Regions from separate parts of the Homo sapiens genome. Here region 2 is linked to region 1. The links come from fine-mapping of genetic effects on gene expression. A gene starts in region 1. The other region holds a variant in brackets. All regions are shown on one strand. Distances are from middle to middle.

Region 1 (5,378 bases):
TGCCATGCTTGTGTAGTTCTGCACATGCTGTTCCCGGTTCATATAATCCCTCGCTCTTTCTCCAGCCCACTCATACTTAGGCTTTGGAACTCGGCTCCAGTATTCCCTTCTGGGAAGTCCTCCCCAAATGGCTTCCCCATGTTGAGCCATTTGCCCTTCTCTCAACTCCTGGGAGTCTTCGGCATACCTTTTCAATGTACTCATCTCACTATCACATAATCTCCCTCATCAAAGTGGATTGAAGCAAACTGGATGAAAGCTTGAAAGCAGAGACCAAGTCTTACTCATCTGCACTTTCCCAGAGACTACCACAGTTCTGGGCCCAAAGTATGTGGACAAGATGAGTGAACAAATGAATACATGAAGAACTGATTTGGATGATCTCTGACACCACCTGGGTTGATTCTATGTCCCTCCATTATAAAAAGGTGGGCGGGTGAGAAGGTAAGTGATCTCTGTAGCACGTTCTGGTAAAATAATCATTTCAAATCCCCCTGGGGGTGGAGGTAGGGGGTTCCACTCTGGCTAGGAGATTAAGGGCAAGATTCATTACCTCAAATTATTTTAAAAACCAGCTGGTAATTGACTGTGATTTAAACTATTTAAATCAATAAGTGAAAGGTTAGGTAAAGGGAACTATTTAAACTAATAAGTGAAAGGTTAGGGAAAGGGAACCAAATTCCAGGAAAAGCCAAGGCCCACAACAAAAACTAACACAGCCTGGAAGGCCCAGCCTCCTCCCAGTAAACTTATTAATTTTATCCAGAAAGACATGGCTCTCCACCCTCTGGGGTTATGCCCTTCTCCCAGCACACATGTTTTGACTTCCAAATCCAGCCAGGCAGGCTCCCAACCTCCCTCCCCCTCAAAATTGATCTCCAGGCCCAGCTGACCCCCTCTGATCTGTTCCCCCAATCATCCTTAATAACAGTGCTCTGGGCCTCCCACTAGGAGGTCCTCCAAGAGCCAGGCCAGTGGCCATCAGGTCAAGAGCCAAGCATGAGGGCCCCATTAACAGGAGACTCCCAGAAGACCAAGCGGCAGTCATCTGGCTGGAAAATCCAGCAAGCAAGTTAAAAAGGAAAAAAATCAGGACATACACGTGGTGGATCATAGAAAAAAAAGAGGAAAAGCAAGCAAAAACTATACAAAGCAAAACTCTACCATTTAAATAACAGCCACAAAATAAAAGACTTTCCCTTCTTTCATTCTGATTTACAAGTCAAAAGAATAAGCACCTCACCCCTCCTGGTCTCATACTTTAAAATTTAACCTAAGGATTAACTGCTTTTCAGACTTTGGTCATGTCATGACTGACTCTTCGGGGAAGAAATTTGTGTTAAGACACAGAAGTGCTTTAGTGGAAAACAGCCCATGATGAGGGAAATTCACCATTTTGCACCTTGTCAATTTTTTTTTTTTTTTTCTGAGACGCTCTGTCCCCCAGGCTGGAGTGCAGTGGCACGATCTCAGCTCACTGCAAGCTCCGCCTCCTGGGTTCACGCTATTCTCCTGCCTCAGCCTCCCGAGAAGCTGGGACTGCAGGCGCCCGCCACCACGCCCGGCTAATTTTTTGTATTTTTAGTAGAGACGGGGGTTTCACCGTGTTAGCCTGGATGGTCTCGATCTCCTGACCTCGTGATCCACCCGCCTTGGCCTCCCAAAGTGCTGGGATTACAGGCGTGAGCCACCGCGCCCGGCCCCTTGTCAATCTTTAAATAAAAAGGAAACGGCTAAAAATGAAAAGATATCCCTAGGCCTTTCTACTCAGGATAACTGTAACCAAACAGCATTATCTCATCTAAACTCAGCTGTGCCTCAAACATTATCACAAGTGCTGGAAGCGTTTAAATCTACAAGCAACACTAGCCTAAAAATGCCTTCGGTAGCCAGACGTGAATTAAAGGCTCCTCAAATGCCAGGAAAATGTCCTACAAGGGTAAGGGGAGGAGAGAAAGAGTACTGAATACAGATAAGTGGGCACTGATCGGAGAGGAAGCAGCACGGGTTCCAGACACCTAATAGGCAGCCTTGGGGATGCAGTCAAGGCCGACCCTTCCCTTCCCTTCCCTTAAGTGGCCGGACGCCTCACCCAGAAGAGGACACAGGGGACTCAACAACGTCTCGGGAACAACGGCCCGGCGGGTGTGAGACTAAGCGGCCAGGAGGAGGAAGGGGAGGAGGAGGCAGGGGAGGAGGAGGCAACGACTGCGGGAAAGGGGAAGGAAGGGCCGGGCCGGGTTGGAGAAGCCTCTTTCTGGGCGTGCGCGCTAAGAGCCTGCGCACCAGCAAAAGCCCCCAGCGCCCACGTGGGACTGAGAGGAGGGTCACTTACAGTACTTGTCCAATCTGAAATTACATTTTAGCTAGACGGATTCTGCACGTAGCCGCGCCGAACCCCACGGCGCCTGAGCAGGGCGGTCCCGGGGCGGCTACAGCCCCGCCTTGCGCGCGATCCCGCCCCCGCCGGCGCGGCCCCTGTAAAGCGCGGCCCCTGTAAAGCGCGGCCCCTGTAAAGCGCGGCCCCTGTAAAGCGCGGCCCCTGTAAAGCGCGGCCCCTGTAAAGCGCGGCCCCTGTAAAGCGCGGCCCCTGTAAAGCGCGGCCTGATTGGCCCTTTGAACCGGGCGTGGGATTGGCCGTCGCCTGCCCACCCCGCGGCTGCAGCGTTCCCTGGGGCCTAGCCAACCGCGGGCAGGGCTGGGCAAGGCGGGAGGAGCGCGGACCCAAGATCGGCTACGCTGCGTCTGCTCAGGCTGCGAGTTCCCGGCTCTGGGGACTCACCTTGCGGAGCTTACCCAGGCGGACTCTCCGCAGCCCCTGATGGGTGTGTGTGTCAGACCGTTTACTAAACACCAGGACTGTTGTAGGCGACTGTAAGAAATAAGAATATTGCATGGTTACAATTCTTGAATGCTTACCTTGTGTCTTGTTCCTTACTCTACAGAAATTTTCTAATCCCGTGGCGAACCCCCGTACTTCAACGTATGACATTCTGTAAATCTACAAAACAGATGGGTCCCTGCCTTTGAGAAGTTTTTACAATTTAGTGGGTACTGGACACGGACCTAATTTAATTCTCACATGCCTTCCCTTTCTAATAAGCTGCATGTTATGTATCCCTATTCTACAGATGTGGGGAATCCGAAATTTTTAGCTTTTACTGGGACACACAGCTAGCAAGCAACTAAAGCGAGAATTCCAACCTGAGCTCCAATCCGAACTATTTTCATAAAAGGCAGGATCCCAGGCTGAGGGAGTTCGAGGTTTGGGAGACAGTTTAGCAGTCGCTGAGTCCAAACATGTTGTTTTCCTAGAAAAGAAAACTGAGATCCAGGAAAGGGAAGTGATTTTCCAAAGACACACCTGTGAAAGGTAATAATTTCACTGAACGGATCTTAAGTGGCAGGTGCACTAAGATTGTCTGCTATCTTCACAACAACCCCGAAGTAAATAAGTGCTCTTATCTTGGTCTTACAGGTGAGGAGAACAGCCCAGTGAGGCTGAGGCCACACAATTAACCCCAGTCTTTGCACTACAACTCTACCAGGGATCCTGGTTTGGCTCATTTTCTTTCTTCTGCACCATGATTGTTCACCTTTTCATTACCAGCAACATACCCAAAGACCTAGCTATAGACTCGTTGGAATCTGTTACTTAGCAGCTGTGTGAATCAAGTGTTCAATAGGAATAATAAGATGTATTCATCTTACCTTTTCAGAACATTATGAAGAACAAATGTGGTAAGACATATGAAAATGCTTTGTAAAGTGTTAGATGCTTAATACACAGAAGACATTGCTTCCAGATCTGTTTCAACGTACCCCAAGAATGGAATAAGTGGAATATGCTGGTTTCATGCACTGTGGCAAGGGGGTCTCATCTTGGCTAGACTTGAATAAGTGGATTTGTTGCCTGGCCTCTGTGGATGGCTCTTTCTCTGGGCTTTTGTGTATTTGATTTTTTATTTGCTCCAGCAGCCGTGTTGAACCATGAAAGGACCTCAGGAATGAAACCCACACACAGCAAAGCAACAAAGTGAAAGAAGCGTGGATTCCTAATGCAGGAGGCACTGAACCAATCAATACCCACTGCCCTCCAGACCTCCACATGAAAGAAAAAAACTGCTGTCCTGTGTAAGACACTTTTATTTTGTGTTTCTATTGTATGAGGTCAAACCTAATAACAGATATATTACACTCTAACAGATACATTACATTGTATAGTAGAATTCTCAGACAGCAACCTTATAAGGTGATAGATGCAGAAACAGGCCCAAAGAGTAAAAATAATTTGTTCAGAGTTTTCCAGCCAAGTGGCGAAGGTGAGATTCTTACCTGGGTTTGTCTGAAACCAATTTTCACTATCTTTTTCAGTTATGATACACTGCCTATTACGAATGAATGAATCCTTTTTTTTTTTTCCATTTACTTCCATTTGATTCATTTATTCCAGGGAGTGACACTTTTTCTGTAAAGGACCGATAGTAAATATTTTAGACTTTGTGAGCAATACAGTCTCTGTTGCAACTACTCAACTTTGTAATGTAAAAGCAGCCATAGACAATAGTAAATGAGTAGGTATGACTATGTTTCAATAAAACTTTACTTACACAAGCAGGCAATGGACAATGTGGCCCATGAGCCTTAGTTTGCCAACCCCTAATGAAATGGGAAAAGTTCCCTTGTCCCCTTCACAGGGCGTGCGATGTGGGTGTGACTCACTTCTTCAGTCCCCACTGCACAAACCTCTAGGGAAGCATACAGACAGGTAGGCTGTGGAGATCTGACCCCACGGCAGTGTCTAGGGGTGACTGTTTACAGCCAAAGCCCCAGTGGGCACATGTAGCAGGGTGCTCTTTTAGTTTAGCCGTCCGTGGGTGGCTTGTGTTAGCCAGCTCAATTAAACCCCTGCCTTATTGCAAGGACAGAGGGCTTTCTGTATCTCGGGGTTCTTGCCTTGGTGTAGCAGAAGAATTGGATCACACGTGGGCTTGGAGAATGATTGCAAGGTTTTATGGAGTGAAAGTAGCTCTCAGCAGGTGGAGGAGCCAAAAGGGAGATGGTTTTCCCCTGGTGTCGGGCCGCTTGGCGGCCCAGGCTCTCCTCCCACTGCCCCAGCCAAACTCCATGTCATTCTGCCAGTTGGTGGCCTGCTGGCGTAAGTGTGTTCTCTCAACGTCCAGCTGCCCGCGTGTTCCTCCGCTGATGTGCTCCTCTCGACGTCCAGCCGCCTGTTTGTCTACCTGCTAGGGTCTCATGGTTTTTATAGCACAGGATGGGGGTGTGGCAGGCCAGGGTTGTCTTGGGAAATGCAATATTTGGGCAGGAAAACAAAATTATGCCTGTCCTCACCTAGGTCCTTGGGCACACATACGCAT
Region 2 (5,378 bases), 150 kb after region 1:
GGCAATGTACATATATTAACTCATTTCATTCTCATAGGCATACGAAGGAAGTAGAGAAATCAAGGAAGGCTTCTTGAAGGAAGTGTCAGCTCAGTCTGGAAGCAGAAATTATATTAAGGAGAGGGAGTTGGGGAGGAACATGAGTATCCTAGGACTGTGCTGGCCAGGTAATCCTTAGCTACATGAGGCTATGACACATTTGAAATGTGGCTAGGCTGAATTGAGGTGGGCTATAAATGTAAAATACATACTAGGTTTCAAGACAGTATAGAAGAAAATATGTATGATAGTGTGTTAATTTTTTATGTTGATTACACGTTGAGATGATATTTTGGGTATATTGGGTTAAACCAAATATGTAATTAATATTAAATTTACTTGTTTCTTTTTACTTTTTTAAATGTGGCCACTAGAAAATTTAAAATTAATTATGTGTCTCACATCATATTTTGATTGGACAGTGCTGCTCTAGAAATCTGGGAAGCTTCAGGGAGCAGGTACGTCAGGGGAACAAGAACCCAGAGGAGGTATGGGGAATGATGAGAGAAAATTAAAAAAAAATGCTGAAAGCAAATATGAATTACCAACTCTCTAATCTGCAGGTCAGAAAGGGTCATTGCAACCTTTGCAAGCCCCAAATCTGAGAGGTTGGGGCCCACCAACTTATGAAAATAGTATCATTCTCAAAACAAGCTCCAGCTGTGAGCCAGGGGATGGTTAACGGCTGTTTTTGAGGCAGATTTTGTAGATGGACGAGGCAAGAATCATTAGGGCAAAACAGTAAATCAAATTGGAGGGTAAAAGTCAATCCTTTAACAATGGCTGGGCCAGACCTCTAACATCTTCCTGCCCGCCCTTTTACCTCTCTGGCCTCATCTCCTACTCAGCTTCTTCCCCATCCCTGCCCCTACTCCAGTTACAATGGCCCGTTTGATGAGCCTCAAACACATCAGGCATGCTCCTGACTCGGGACCTTCGCGCTGGCTGTTCCCCCTGTTGGAAACGCTCTTCCCCTAGCTATCCTATGGCTTAATATCTTAACTCACCTCATCAATAAGGCCTACCTGCCCATCTTATTTAGAATTGCAACTCCAATTGCACTCCTTTACCCTACTCTTGTTTTTCTTTTTGTAACTGTTACTACCTTCTAACATATTCATTGATTTACCTTTTATTGTGTTTACTGTTAATCTCCCTATTAGGAAGTATGTTCTCCAAAGACAGGGATCTCGGTTTTATTTCCTTCATTATCCCCCATACCAAGTCAGTGCCTGGCATAGAGCACCTGCTGAATTAACTTTGTTTTTTGAATGAACGAAAGCGTCAATGGTGATGCTCAGGGCAGGTTTGGTCAGTGGACAGGCATCCTCTGTGTACCCTCTCCTCTCCGGAAGAAAAGGACTCTTTTTTCCTCTCCTGCAGTTGGATTTAACTAACCTCGCTTCCCGTTCAGCGTTTACTACTCAGGGTTCTGCCCTGTTCTGGATCCCACACATAGGCTCCCAAGAGAGTAAAAGAAGCAGTGAATGCAGAGGAAAACGCCCTGGATTGGAAGCTGGGATTCCTAGGTGCCCTCCTGGCTTAGCAGCAACGCACTTGTTTCCCCAGCTGTCAAGGGTTCCAGGCTCAGTGGGAGGCTGAACAAGGTGCTGACCGAGTTCAGAAGAAAAATGAGGGGAAAATCGTTACCTAAAGGGCAGTGGCTCTCCAGGGATGGTCCTTTGACCAGAGGAATCAGCATCACCACCCTAAACCCACAGAATCAGAAACCGTGGAGGGAGCCAGCAACGTGTTTGAATACAGCCTCTGGGTGATGCTGATGCACTCAAGTTTGAGAACTGCTACTCTGGGGGAAAGAAGGACTTTGTTGGAGCCTTGGAGGCAGGGACGGACTTCATAGGTCAGGCGAGAGGACAGGTCCCCGCGAGGGCGGACTAGCACTGGGTTGGTTCCCTGCATCCAAGGCCGCGCAGGGTGGTCCCAGCCCCAGTCTGACCTGGGAAGTTGGAAAGGCCAGGGCTCCTACGTGCTCACACCTCCACCCCAGGAAAGTCCCGGCGGCGAGGCCGTGACCCTCCGCCGGAACGCCCGCCTCCCTGCAGCCTCAGCCCCGCCCGGGAAAAACCGCTGCGACCCGGGGCAGGTCCGTTCCCGCTGCTCGCAGCCGGCGGTCCCTGGCCCGGCGGTCCCTGGCCTAGCGCCCCCGCGCCGCGCTGGTGGGGAGCGCGGCCCCTCCGCCCCGTGGCAAGTTCCCTTCTCAACTGCCCTGCGCCTCCGCTGGCCCGCGTGAAACCCTCTCTGCTGCCTCGACTGACTGTCGTTTCCGTGTCTTGATTGTGGCCTCTGCCTCTCCCCCTTCCGATTTCGTTCGACTTCTTTCTACAGTTACTAAGCGCCCACTGTGTGCCCTGGAAGGGACTAGACTCAGCAGGTAACGGGAAAC[G/A]AAGGCACCTGCCGCTCTGAAGTTTCTCCGCATCTCCCTCCATCCTCTGTTCCATCCCCATTCTCAGCATTTGTCCCCTCCCTCCTCTTCTTTTTTTTTTTTTTTTTAATTTAATCTAAAGGAACCTTGCTTCTGGAAGACCTCACAGTAGAATTAAAAAGCCTACTTTTATCTGACTTCTAGAGAGTTGCAATTAAAATGTACATCTTACCTTGACTCATGCCAACAAGTTAAGCTGTTATCAGCTATTAACACCTCAACCAGAATTAGTTTATTAACCTAAAGCAGACAGCTTTATCCTATGGAGGTCGCCTACTTGAGATAAACTATTATTCACATACTTTCACTTTTGTGCCACTCACTCATTCAAAGAAAAATATTCAGTCGTTCAACTATTTATTGAGCACCTAGTATGTGCCAGCATTGTTCATGACTAGCACTGGTCGATGGCAATAATATTAACTACATACGACATTTTAAATTTTCTAGCAGCCACATTAAAGAAAGTGAAAAGACATAGGTAAAAGTAATTTTAATAATTTAACCCAATATGCCCTAAATATTATTTCAATATGTGATCAATATAAAAATTATCAATAAAATATTTTACATTTACTTTTTTTTTAATGCTGTGTCTTTGAAACTTTGTGTGTATGTTACACTTCCAGCACATCTCAGTTCCTGCTAGGAACATTTCAAATGCTTAATAGCCACATTGGCTAGTGGCCACTGTGCTAATCACTGCAATTCTAGACACTTGGAGAACAGCTATGGAAAGACAAAGGTAGAAAGTCAGTAAACTCATGAACAAATAAAATAATCATAAGTAGTGTTCAATGCTAGGAAGAAATTAAAACAAAGTAATGACATAGAATGATGGACATTACCTCATTTAACCTTTTCAATTCCCCCCTCAAGTTGAATAATAGTATATAACAATGTTATAGGCCGGGTGTGGTGGCTCACGCCTGTAATCTCAGCACTTTGGGAGGCCGAGATGGGCGGATCACGAGGTCAGGAGATCAAGACCATCCTGGCTAACACGGTGAAACTCCGTCTCTACTAAAAATACAAAAAATTAGCCAGGCGTGGTGGCGGGCACCTGTAGTCCCAGCTACTCAGGAGGCTGAGGCAGGAGAATGGCGTGAACCCAGGAGGTGGAGCTTGCAGTGAGCCGAGATCCCGCCACTGCACTCCAGCCTGGGCGACACAGCGAGACTCCGTCTCAAAAAAAAAAAAAAAAAGAAAAAAAAAAAACAATGTTATATAACAATTTTATAGCTATGAAAACTGAGGCTGAGACACAAAGAGCAACTTGTCCAAGTGCTTACAACTGGTAAATTCTATGTCCAGGATTCAGATCCCAGCTTGACTGTCTTCCATGCTCATTCCCATTACCCTACAAGGCCAGGTCATAAAGAAGACAGAGGGGAGGGAGGAGGAGTTGAATGGCTTTTGGGGTTTAAACTTTTGAGCACTGAACTAGGAATTTGGTGCTGCTGTGTGTTATTGATTAGGTCTCATGACCTCTCTGGGCCTTCCTCGCAGGTAACATGGAAAGCTTGGCCTTTTTCACTGGACCATTCACAAAGGGAATAAAGAGTTTTGAATAAAATAGTTAAACTTTTTATCCTCAAATGTACCTGCTTTTACACAAGTTTTGTGAAAAGCTCAAAGTATTTTTTTCCTTAGTTCGGGTGGACTAGACTAAAGACAATGGAGACAACATTGCATAGTGCTAGAAGCAGGGGGCTTTGAGTGGTGGTTGGCTGGTCATCCTAGCTATGGGAACTTAACTGTTTTGAGTTTCAATTTTCTTTATTTTAAAGCAGGTATCTACCTCATGGCATATTTGTAGAAGGGAAATGAAATGTTGCATGTAAGCATTTAACATAGCAACTAGCACATAGTAATCACACAATAAATATTGGCCATTATATTAACAGCCCCCATGGGTATTATACATTTGGCATTAGAAAGACTTGAATTTGAGTCTTAAATCTATCACCTACAGGCTGTGTGACTTAAACAAATCAATTAGTATATCTAGTTCATCTGAAAAATGGGAACAAGAACATTATTTGTACAATCTGCCACAGTGTCTCCATAAATGTCAACTAAGATTCTGTATGTAAATGTGCTTTGCAAGCTGTGAAGTGCTGCACTCATGTTGATTAATCTTGGTGGTTACTTTTCTGTCAAGGCTTCATATCCAGTCCTTTGCAGATCTGAGCTGCCTCATCATTGCCTTTGTAGCAGAAAACTGAGAACTCAATCTTATTTTTCTTTGTACTAGCAGCACTCATCAAAATGTTTTGTGTGCCAGTGTGTCCAGATTATTAAAGTTAGGAGTCAGAGGATCTAGTTTGGCCTCTGCTACACACTGGAGGTGTAATCTTAGACCAGTCATTTAACTTCTCCAAGCTGTTTTCTTAGTCCCAAAATAGGAATAGTCTTAATATTTGACTTTCCTACTTGTTGGGGTTATTCAGGATGATAAAAGAGATAAAAAGCCTGTTGAACACCATATATTTCTATAAAGGCTGAGGGGAACATTCCTAAGCATTATTCCCAGTAGGCAGCATGTCTTTCCTCCTGGCAGCTCTTAGCCTTGCAAAACAGCCTGATAGAACTACTAATGGTTTCCTGCCTAGGTCCCTGCTGTTTCATGCCTCGGTGCTTGTGCACTTTGCACAGGCTGGTTGCTCTGCTTGGAATGCCCTTCTCCTCATTTCCTCATCTTTAAACCTCACTCCTTATTTACGGGATGCCTAAGAAACTCATTTTCCAAAATCCAGCTTCAAAGAGTCTTCTCCCTAAAACCCATTTAGACCCATTCAACCAAAGTCAATTACCACCTCCGCTCTGTGTCCCACAGTAACCAGTAAAGACTGCCATCATATCTCTCATCACCCTGCAGTACAACTATTGTTTA

Alleles and levels. Positions count from the first base shown, and alleles are read on the strand shown. Sizes are in standard deviations (SD) of each study's normalised expression.
In carriers of allele A in region 2, the expression in testis of the gene that starts at base 2,693 in region 1 tends to be higher than with G alone (moderate effect, 0.64 SD a copy in GTEx).

The links.
Region 2: its variant is fine-mapped to the expression of FGGY-DT in testis (GTEx, PIP above 0.99).

The regions. Positions count from the first base shown.
Region 1 is chr1:59,293,865-59,299,242 of GRCh38, reverse strand. It overlaps FGGY-DT (FGGY divergent transcript), which reads left to right and starts at 2,693. Exons shown (of 2, transcript XR_001738089.2): 1 at 2,693-2,874; 2 at 3,479-5,378. It overlaps FGGY (FGGY carbohydrate kinase domain containing), which reads right to left and starts at 2,149. Exons shown (of 16, transcript NM_018291.5): 1 at 2,093-2,149. RefSeq lists an enhancer at 1-690 and silencers at 2,108-2,197, 2,208-2,747.
Region 2 is chr1:59,143,729-59,149,106 of GRCh38, reverse strand. HSD52 (a long non-coding RNA gene) reads left to right here and starts at 2,300. Exons shown (of 3, transcript NR_027120.1): 1 at 2,300-2,431. RefSeq lists a silencer at 2,142-2,291 and an enhancer at 2,412-2,471. The variant G/A (reference allele first, on the strand shown) is at 2,444.